2 separate regions of the Homo sapiens genome follow, and region 1 is linked to region 2. A link means that fine-mapping ties the variant in region 2 to the plasma level of a protein whose gene starts in the linked region. Region 2 holds a variant in brackets. A gene starts in the other region. All regions are shown on their reverse strands.

The links. A credible set is the group of variants that fine-mapping cannot tell apart. PIP is the posterior inclusion probability: the model's chance that the variant is causal. Protein levels are from antibody-based Olink assays in UK Biobank. Linkage for the fine-mapping came from a reference panel and not from the study's own genotypes, which makes the PIPs less certain.
Region 1: it holds the start of IFNL1, and the variant in region 2 is the best candidate, but not a certain one, in a credible set for the plasma level of the IFNL1 protein (UK Biobank, PIP 0.80).

Annotation. Positions count from the first base shown.
Region 1 is chr19:39,294,222-39,299,603 of GRCh38, reverse strand. IFNL1 (interferon lambda 1) reads right to left here and starts at 3,197. Exons shown (of 5, transcript NM_172140.2): 1 at 3,012-3,197; 2 at 2,722-2,799; 3 at 1,497-1,640; 4 at 1,308-1,391; 5 at 931-1,213. The coding sequence starts at 3,182. The coding sequence ends at 1,088.
Region 2 is chr2:162,277,322-162,282,703 of GRCh38, reverse strand. It overlaps IFIH1 (interferon induced with helicase C domain 1), which reads left to right. Exons shown (of 16, transcript NM_022168.4): 6 at 128-338; 7 at 1,159-1,376; 8 at 2,592-2,708; 9 at 4,376-4,499; 10 at 5,011-5,289. Among named protein-coding and RNA genes, the nearest start is that of FAP, 37 kb to the right of the region's middle. The variant T/C (reference allele first, on the strand shown) is at 2,272.

The sequences.
Region 1 (5,382 bases), not on the chromosome of region 2:
GGCTTCTCACACCATTGTGGTTAGGTTCCAGGATGTAGCATCCTGACCGCTTTTCTTTTCTTTTCTTTCTTTTTTTTTTTTTCTTTCTCGAGACGGAGTTTCACTCTTGTTGCCCAGGCTGGAGTGCAATGGCGTGATCTCCGCTCACCACAACCTCCACCTCCCGGGTTCAAGCGATTCTCCTGCCTCAGCTTCCCGAGTAGCTGGGATTACAGGTATGCATCACCACACCCGGCTAATTTTTGTATTTTTAGTAGAGATGGGGTTTCTCCATGTTGGTCAGGTTGGTCTCAAACTCCCGACCTCAAGTGATCTGCCCGCCTTGGCCTCCCAAAGTGCTAGGATTACAGGCCTGAGCCCACGGAGGCTGGCCTTTTTTTTTTTTTTTTTTTTTTTTTTTTTTTTTTTTTTAAGATGGAGTTTCTCTCTTGGTGGCCAGGCTGGAGTGCAGTGATGTGATCTCGGCTCACCACAACCTCCACCTCCCGGGTTCAAGCATTTCTCTTGCCTCAGCCTCCCGAGTAGCTGGGATTACGGGGTCATGCCACAACTCCCGGCTAATTTTTGTACTTTTAGTAGAGACAGGGTTTCACCATGTTGGCTAAGCTGGTCTCAAATTCCTGACCTCAAGTGATCTGCCTGCCTCAGCCTCCCAAAGCACTGGGATTACAGGTGTGAGCCACCATGCCTGGCAGTACACACACATACTTGCACACGTGTGGGCATGAACATGCACAGTTACGCACCTTTGGTTAGACTCAAGTTCAGGCAGACACTCATTTCCATACAAATACATACATAGTCACAGAAGTCAGGCACACACAAATATACACAACGAGTCACAAATTTTGCCTGCATCACCCAGACATCCACACCCAGTCACAGACCCACAATCACACACACACTCAAGGATTCACCTATCACAGAAGGTTCCAATTCCTTGTTGTTTATTTGTGCATAATGTATAAAAGTAAAACAATAAACTCAGCCCTATGTCTCAGTCAGGGCTGCAGCTTCATAAATAAAGGGTGAGAGGAAATAAATTAAGGAAGGAGTAGGGCTCAGCGCATAAATAAGGTGTGGGGTGTCAGGTGGACTCAGGGTGGGTTGACGTTCTCAGACACAGGTTCCCATCGGCCACATATTTGAGGTCTCGCGTGAGGAGGCGGAAGAGGTTGAAGGTGACAGATGCCTCCAGGCAGCCAGCGGACTCCTGTAGGGGAGGAGGGGATGGGTCAGGGGCTGTCCAGGGTCTGGGCTCCTATTGGCTCCCCAGACCCTGGTCCTTCTCTTCCTGGGTCACTCACCTTTTTGGGGGCCTCCTGGAGCCGGTGCAGCCAGTGGTGGAGGCGGCCCCGGGGCCTGGGCCCTGCTGTGGGCTGAGGCTGGATCTGTGGGCAGAAGAGGGCGGTGTGTGAGGCGGAGCCTGGGCCACCACAGGGGAAGGATGCTGCTCAGAGCCCACAGACCTGGGTGCCCGGGCCCCAAGGACTCACACAGGCCTGGAGCTGGGAGAGGATGTGGTGCAGGGTGTGAAGGGGCTGGTCTAGGACGTCCTCCAGGGCTGGGCCAGCAGCGGCCTCCAGGACCTTCAGCGTCAGGGCCAGCTCAGCCTCCAAGGCCACAGGGCGCTCCCTCACCTGAGGAGAGGTGAGAAAGAGCAGGTGAGGGAGAACAGGCAAGAAGACCCAGTTAGTGGGGACAGGTAGGCAGTCCTGGGGAAGGTCGGTGACACAGTGCATGTGGTGGGGACAGGTGAGGGGTCTGGGGAGAAGGAGACAGGAGGGGGAAGACATGAGGAAGGATACAGGTGAGGCAGGATGGTCAAGGAGGCAGGTGAGGGGATAAGTGAAATGGAGACAAATGAAAGGGGACTTACGGGGGTCACAGAAGTTCTCTGGGGCGGGGTGGGGACGGGTGAGGAGAAAGCAGGTTGGGGGCACAGTAAGAGAGGGACAGTTGCATGCACAGAGAAGAAGGGTAGGGCTGGGTGTGGTGGCTCACGCCTGTAATCCCAGCACTTTGGGAGGCCGAGGCGGGTGGATCACCTGAGGTCAGGATTTCGAGACCAAGCCTGGCCAACATAGTGAAACCCCGTCTCTGCTAAAAATACAAAAATTAGCTGGGCATCATGGCACATGCCTGTAATCCCAGCTACTCGGGAGGCTGAGGCAGGATAATTGCTTGAACCCGGGAGGCAGAGGTTGCAGTGAACCGAGATCATGCCACTGCACTCCAGCCTGGGCCATAGAGCAAGACTCTGTCTCAAAAAAAAAAAAAAAAAAAAAAAAAAGAGAAGGGTGGATGAGGGGGGAGCATGAGCTGGATGAATGTCAGTGAGAGATAATGAGGGACAGGTGACAGAGGCAGGTGAGAGGGAGAGGGGGTCAGTGTTGGGAACAGACAGGGAGAAGTGGAGCAGGACGAAAGGCACAGGTGGGCGACAGACTGGAGACATTTGGGAGAGAAATGAAGAGTGAGAGTGGAAGTGACAGGGACAGGTGAGCGAGCTAGGGAAGTGGGGCCGATGGGAGATGATAAAAGGGACCCAGGGGAAGGACAGAGTCAAGAGAGCAGTTTTGAAGTGGCAGGGGCACAGGACAGGTGAGGAGAGGTCCAAGAGAGTGAAGGACAAGGGAAACAAAGAAGGCTAAGGGGCCACTTAAGAAGAGGGGGGAGAGGGTCAAGGGAAGGGTGAAGGGGGCCTGACTTTCAGCTCACCTGGAGAAGCCTCAGGTCCCAATTCCCGGGGAAGACAGGAGAGCTGCAACTCCAGTTTTTCAGCTTGAGTGACTCTTCCTAGAGAGCAAGGGCAGGGGTTAGCCCACAGCAGGATGGCTGGAAGCTAGCTCATAGCAGCAAGGATGAAGTTGGCCTGACAGCATGGGTTTAACCCAGTGCAGAAAGGATAGAGGTTTGCCATAGTTGGAAGGCTAGAGGCTAGCCCACAGTAGAAGGGCAGTAATTGGGACACCCGTAGAAGTGGTTCATCCACAGCAACAGGAACTCACCAAGGCGTCCCTGGCCTTCTTGAAGCTCGCTAGCTCCTGTGGTGACAGAGATTTGAACCTGCCAATGTGGCAGCCCTTCCCAGTTGTGGTGGGCTTGGAAGTGGGGACAGGGCCTGCCACGGCCAAGCCTAGCACCAAAGTCACCAGCACCACGGTCCAAGCTGCAGCCATGGCTAAATCGCAACTGCTTCCCCAGCGGCATGGCTCTGCTTTTTAGCCACGCAAAATGGGCAATCCAAGATGATGTGTGTAAAGTGAAAAGGTAATTGGAAATGAGAATTTCCACTTTGACTTAAGAGGCATGAGTGGGCGGGGCCCGTCTGGGAGCCTGATGAGGGAACAGGTGTGGGCAGGGCCAAGTGAGCTGGGAGCTGCATCAAGAAGGAAAGAGAAACTGAAATCCTTAGAACTCCCTGGGCAGCTTTCAGCCAACTGGCCTCAGGGAGTCCCTGACGGAGGCTGAGATTAGGGATAAGGCTACCTGAGTGGCAGAGAGGAAGCTTCTTTTTTATTCTAAATTAGCCAGGTGTGGTGGCATGCGCCTGTGGTCTCAGCTACTCAGGAGGCCGAGGCATGAGAATCACTTGAACCCGGGAGGCGGAGGTTGCAGTGAGCCAAGATCGTGCCACTGCACTCCAGCCTGGGTGATGGAGTGAGATCCTGTTTCAAAAAAAAAAAAGCTTGTTTTTTATTTTATTGTTATTATTATTTTTTGAGACGTAGTTTTGCTCTTGTTGCCCAGGCTGGAGTGCAATGGTGCAATCTTGGCTCACTGCAACTTCTGCCTCCCGAGTTGAAGCGATTCTCCTGCCTCAGCCTCCTAAGTAGTTGGGATTACAGGTGCATGCCATCACGCCTGGCTAGTTTTTGTATTTTTAGTAGAGACTGGGTTTTACTATGTTGGTCACGCTGGCTTCGAACTCCTGACTTCAGATGATCTGCCTGCCTTGGCCTCCCAAAGTGCTGGGATTACAGGCGTGAGCCACCACCTTACTTTATTATTTATTTATTTATTTTTGTAGAGATAGGGGTCTCACTATGTTGCCCAGGCCAGTCTTGAACTCCTGGCCTTAAGCCATCCTCCTGCTTCAGCCTCGCAAAGTGCTAGTATTAAAGGCATGAGCCACTGCTCCTGGCCAAGAAGGAGCTTCTGCCATTGGTTTAAGAATGTCCCATTAACTAATTTCAGTTCATGCTCCTAATGTTTCTCTGAGTAGTTATTTTTATAATTGTGATGGTTAATTTTAGGTGTCACCTTGACTGGTTAAGTTTATCAGATAGCTGGTGATGCGTTAATTCTGGGTATGACTCTGGGGTGTTTCCAGAAGAGATTGGCATTTGAATCAATGGACTGAGTAAGGAAGACCCGTTGTTACCCAATGTGGTGGGCACCATCCAATTGGCCGAGGGCCTGAATAGAACAAAAAGGCAGAGGAAAGGAGAATTTGCTCTCTCTTATGAGCTGGGACACCCTGCACCTGCCCTTAAACATCAGAACTCCAGGCTCTTTGGTCTTTGAATGCTGGGATGTGCAGCTGGGCATGGTGGCTCACGCCTGTAATCCCAGCAGTTTGGGAGGCTGAGGCAGGTGAATCACTTGAGGTCAGGAGTTCGAGACCAGCCTGGCCAACATGGTGAAACCCCATCTCTACTAAAAATATAAAAATCAGCCAGGCGTGGTGGCACAGGCCTGTAGTCCCAGCTACTTGGGAGGCTGAGGCAGGAGTATCGCTTGAACCCTGGAGGCGGAGGCTGCAGTGAGCTGAGATCATGTCACTGCACTCCAGCCTGGTCAACAGAGTGAGACTCCATCTCAGAAAAAAAAAAAATGCTGGGACTTGCACTAGCTACCCCCTAAGTCCTGAGGCTTTTATTCTGGAACTGAGCTGCACTACAAGCTTCCCTGGTTCTCCAGCTTGCAGATGGCCTGTTGTGGAACTTCTTAGCCTCCCTAATTGTCTGAGCCAATTCCCCTAATAAATCCCCTCCTATCTCTCTCTCATCTATCTAGTCTCTCTCTCTCTCTCTCTCTCTCTCTCTCTCTATCTAGTCTATCTCTCTCATCTATCTAGTCTATATCTCTCTATCTATCATCTATTTATCCAAACATCCTATTTGTTCTGTCTCTCTGGAGAACCCTGACTAATACAATAATCATGCCCATTTTACTAGTGAGATAACTGAGGCATAGGAAGGCAAAGTGACTTGCCTAAGGTCCCACAGTGGGATAGAGGCAGAAATGGGGTATGATGAGTCCTATGTACTTGCTCCCTATTCCATATGCAGCCCAGGTAGAAGATGAGAACCTCTGGGGGTAGCAGGCCCACTTCTCCTTTCTGTCCCTCTGGGTAGCATGAGAGGGGTAGGGAAC
Region 2 (5,382 bases):
GTTATGCCTGATTCACTGATAATGTAAACACCTCTTTTCATGCTGGATGCCAAACAGGCCTTTGATCAACACTCTTTTGGCTTCGACTAACTTTCTCTCTTTTAAAAAATCTTCACATTTTTTTAAGGTACTGCTAGTTGAACAGCTCTTCCGCAAGGAGTTCCAACCATTTTTGAAGAAATGGTATCGTGTTATTGGATTAAGTGGTGATACCCAACTGAAAATATCATTTCCAGAAGTTGTCAAGTCCTGTGATATTATTATCAGTACAGCTCAAATCCTTGAAAACTCCCTCTTAAACTTGGAAAATGGAGAAGATGCTGGTGTTCAATTGTCAGGTCAGTTTAAGTGTTTATTTTTTTAAAAAAATTAATAGTAATATTGATGATAACAAAGGCTGTATTTGTTAATTTTTTAAATGTTCGTGGCTTAAATTGTCTTTTATTGCTTATGGTTTTATTAAAATCCTTCTACTTCCTGGAGGAAACAAAAAAAGTAAGTTTTTAATTAGACCACTTTATTCTGCATAAGAATACCATTATTAAGGCAAGCACTCGCTGGACTTTCCATTTATTCTGACAAGTTCCTTTATTTGCTATTGAATGTTGTTAGATCTGCTTCCCTTTCCCATAGAATAAAAATACAAATCTTGTCTTTTATGGGGTATAGGATGAGAAGGTAGGAGAAAGAATGGAAAAAAATAAAAATAATTTATAATAACTAAATGCAATGTTAAAACAAGGCAAAATTTTCCCTCTTTAAATAGTGTGTTTTTCACTTGATGTAATAAAAATAAAATTCACCAACCTAAAATTAAATATTTTATTAAAGAACAAAAGTAAAATCCTGAGATTTGTTTTGTAATAAGCCAGGGTGTGAATTCCACATCTAACGCTTTTTAGCTCTGTAAACTTTCTGAATCTTATCTATTAAAGAAGGAGAATGTCTAACAGGGAGTTTCATGATTAGTATATACGAACGTCTGTGTGTACAGGTGCTAGTATAGTTAGATTTCCCTCCTAAAAACTGAAAGTGGACTGCTCTTGTGTCGTGCCCAAGAGAAGGCATCCCCAAGGCAGCTCAATTACTGGTCTAAAGCTATTTTCTCACTGTAGTGTGCTGATATGGAGAAATGAACTCTTTGAATTTTCTTTTAAGACTTTTCCCTCATTATCATTGATGAATGTCATCACACCAACAAAGAAGCAGTGTATAATAACATCATGAGGCATTATTTGATGCAGAAGTTGAAAAACAATAGACTCAAGAAAGAAAACAAACCAGTGATTCCCCTTCCTCAGATACTGGGACTAACAGCTTCACCTGGTGTTGGAGGGGCCACGAAGCAAGCCAAAGCTGAAGAACACATTTTAAAAGTAAGTCATAATTTTATGTATAACCAATGAAAGCAAAGCTAAAACAAATGCCAGGACTTCTTGGTCTTATTAAATAAGATTGAGTTCAAGTGCTGTGATCATCAGTTAAGTGAAATCTGTTTGCTTTAGTACAATAAATATACTCAGTCTTCTACAGAATACTAATATGCCTTAATAAATATCAATAACACAAAATCATATCATAAAAATGATGGAGAGTGATATAATTAATGGGAAGTTGAGATAAATAGAATGCCTTCTTTTGAACATCTACTCTTATGGTTAAATTTAATGATCTACCTGATATAGAAATATGCATAAACTATGAAAGTTTCTAGTTGTCACACATAATAAAGTCTTACTCCATGAGTTTCAAAACTGCGTATTTTCTGTCCTTCATATGTTATTCTAGGAATCTAGGTAATTCAAATTAAAGGGAAATAGGGATATGAAGATCTTTAAAGATGAGCTTGTCAGCTGCCCCCTAATGGTAACACCACATACAGTGCTACTGTTAATCTTGAGTGTTAAGTAAATCAGAGTAGCCCAAGAAGTATTTTGGTACCAAGGCAATTGCATTTGAATTTTAAGTCCCTTACTTTAAGTTGAATTCAATACAAATTATGTAGAGTAGACACAACATTCAGAGATGCAATTATAGGCTCCAAAATATAATTTATTACTGGGATTAAGGACTAATTCCAATCTAATAATCAAGGAACATGACTAAGGATGCTCCCAGCTTTATGTGTAGATGCCTGCTTTATGTGTAGAAGAAGGTGGTAGTATGATCCACGGATGTCAAGTTGACCTTTGATATGCCTCATGTAACATGGTTATCTCAAAATCATTCTCTGTCAATGATGGTAAATTGTTATACTCTTTCCATGTCAGT[T/C]TTCCACTTGGAAAATGGAATTTAAGGAATGAATATCAATACACCTTTTTCTCTGTTATTACACCAACTTGATTTAGAAGCTCCTTTTTCCTATATTAGGACAAATGTTGCTGATTGTGGGTTAATGAGATCCATAATAAAACAATGTTAAAATGCTATATTTAGCAAGCAATGCTACATATTACTTTCATGAAATTTTATACCACATATTTATGCTACAATTTAATGCTACATATTTTTTACATGAAAAAGAGTTCTACGTTGAATAAAGTGAAAGGGAAAAATAATTGCATAAATATTGAAAAATGTCTCTTTTCCAGCTATGTGCCAATCTTGATGCATTTACTATTAAAACTGTTAAAGAAAACCTTGATCAACTGAAAAACCAAATACAGGAGCCATGCAAGAAGTTTGCCATTGCAGATGCAACCAGAGAAGTATGGGCTTAATGTTTTATATCTATTGATTGACAATACTACATTCAGTAGAAAGATGGCAAAGGCTATTTTATACTGACCATCTGAAAAATATTATTTAAAAATTTTAGCAAACAAGTTTCAGGTTTTTTTTTAATTGATGTTAGGCAGTAAAGCACTACAGTGAATTCTCGCCTCTAGACCTCTTTTAGTTTTCTAATTTACATGAGGAATAGCTTATTCATTGTTTGTACATATGAGTTAAAAGGGACAGTGAGGGGCCATGGGCAGAGGGATGTGTAACTAAGCTGGAGGGGTTATGACAGTTCGTTTTAGCCTTTTTAATTTTCTTCGTGAATTCCAGGATTGATTTTCTGACATTCCACAGAGCCATTTTGTTGCTATCAAATTACATTTGGCAATGATAATGGGAATCCTATCTAATTTGCATACTTGCATATTTACTTTCTTAGGAAAACAGTGCAATGGTAAAGAAGTGAAATATTTACTTTAATGATGCTTTTCTGATGAATTTTTCAGGAATTATAAGAATAAACTGAGAGTCAATTTGGACATTATGGCCAGTAAATTATGTCAATACTTTATTTTGTAAAATTTAGAAAGCATTACAAATTCTGGCCATATGTACTTGATAATACCATTGAAAATAAGAATGTTGGGATCAAATGATATGAAATATGCATAGTAGATAAAACAATGCTTGAAATATAGTAGGCACTAAACCAATGTTAGTAACTAGCCTCCGTATATCTCTTTTTTTAAATTCTGAAAAAGACTGCTATCTACTCCAGCTGCACTAGCACAGTTGAATATATTTTATTCACTTTCCTTTTTTTGTTACTTATTTGGTTTTACTTGATAATTTTAAATGCATGTTTCTACTCATAAAGATTTTTAAAACTAAATTTCTCAGGTACATTTTTTAAAAGAATTTGCCATTTTTTAAACTTACTTTAATTTTTTTATATACCTTGAAGCATAACATACATACAGAAAAGTACAAATTCATATGTGTACTGATTGCTGAATTTTCCTAAACTGAATACACATATGTAAACAAAATCCAAATCAAGAGACAGCACACTGCCAGTATCCTAAAAGCTCCTGGCTCCCCCTTCCAGTCACCATGCCCCAGGAATCACTACTATCTTGACTTCTAAAACAAAAAATGAGTTTTCACTGATTCTGAACTTTATATAAATGGAATCATATAGCATGCACTCCTTTATTTCTGGCTTTATTCAGACTCTACTTCAACTTTTTATTTTGGTCGAAATAATACTGAAACCAGTTTTACAAAGGAGGAATGTTTCTTAAATTACACTGTAAGCTTTCTAAATAATTGTGGCATTAATGCAATATGTGTTTTCTAAGTTACCTTTAACATACAAGGTTTATATAATTCATTAACTTTACTTTTGTTAACCTTTTAAGTTGGAGATTCCAGCAGAGGTAACAGGGTGTTGGTGTGGGTGTGGCTTGATGGCAGGCTTAAAAGAGAAGCTGACAAAAATAAATGTACAGACAAGTGATGGGACACTAACCTGTTACTTTGTCTAAACAAAGATGAATCAGATTTATTATAACCTAGAAATTATTCTAACAAAGATAATGTTATTCCTTTAACAATAAGAATACATAAGAATAAGTGTGTACTTTATTTTTAGGATCCATTTAAAGAGAAACTTCTAGAAATAATGACAAGGATTCAAACTTATTGTCAAATGAGTCCAATGTCAGATTTTGGAACTCAACCCTATGAACAATGGGCCATTCAAATGGAAAAAAAAGGTAATTTAGGTTTGGACCTAACACTTAGTTTATCCCATGTTTATACCAAGATTTTAGATGACTATATCACAGATTCCCCAAAAAATGGAAAGCAAAAGTAGTTCCAAATAGAATTTCTGTGTTCTCTGTAGGACAAGCATAATAAACATGTTCTAATTCCTTTTCTAAGGAGAGAGATTCCAATGCTATCCAATTTTCTCTTTGTCTCCAGAGTCTTGAGATAAACTTTAATAGCTCTGTCTCCAAAGGCAAACTCAACTAATATATTTTCATGCCATTTCTCTGTGCATCAGCTACATGTTTTTGCTGAGGCAGAACTCAAGCAGCAAGTCTAGGAGTTGGAAAACTTGCCCTGTTTCAGAGCTCAGGACACATTTTGAGCCTTAACTTGCCCATTTTAAAACCAAGGTGAAGCCAGTTTTGCAGTTAGTAACATATATTCAAGTCCATGGCACAATTTTAGGGGGTTTATATGCTTATTATTTCACTTACATAATATATTTTTTCACAGCTGCAAAAGAAGGAAATCGCAAAGAACGTGTTTGTGCAGAACATTTGAGGAAGTACAATGAGGCCCTACAAATTAATGACACAATTCGAATGATAGATGCGTATACTCATCTTGAAACTTTCTATAATGAAGAGAAAGATAAGAAGTTTGCAGTCATAGAAGATGATAGTGATGAGGGTGGTGATGATGAGTATTGTGATGGTGATGAAGATGAGGATGATTTAAAGAAACCTTTGAAACTGGATGAAACAGATAGATTTCTCATGACTTTATTTTTTGGTAAGATTCAAAGTAACATATACTGGTGTCATTCATTTACCTTTTCAACATGAACTTACTGCTTCTCATAAGCTCTCCAAAAAGAGAAATATC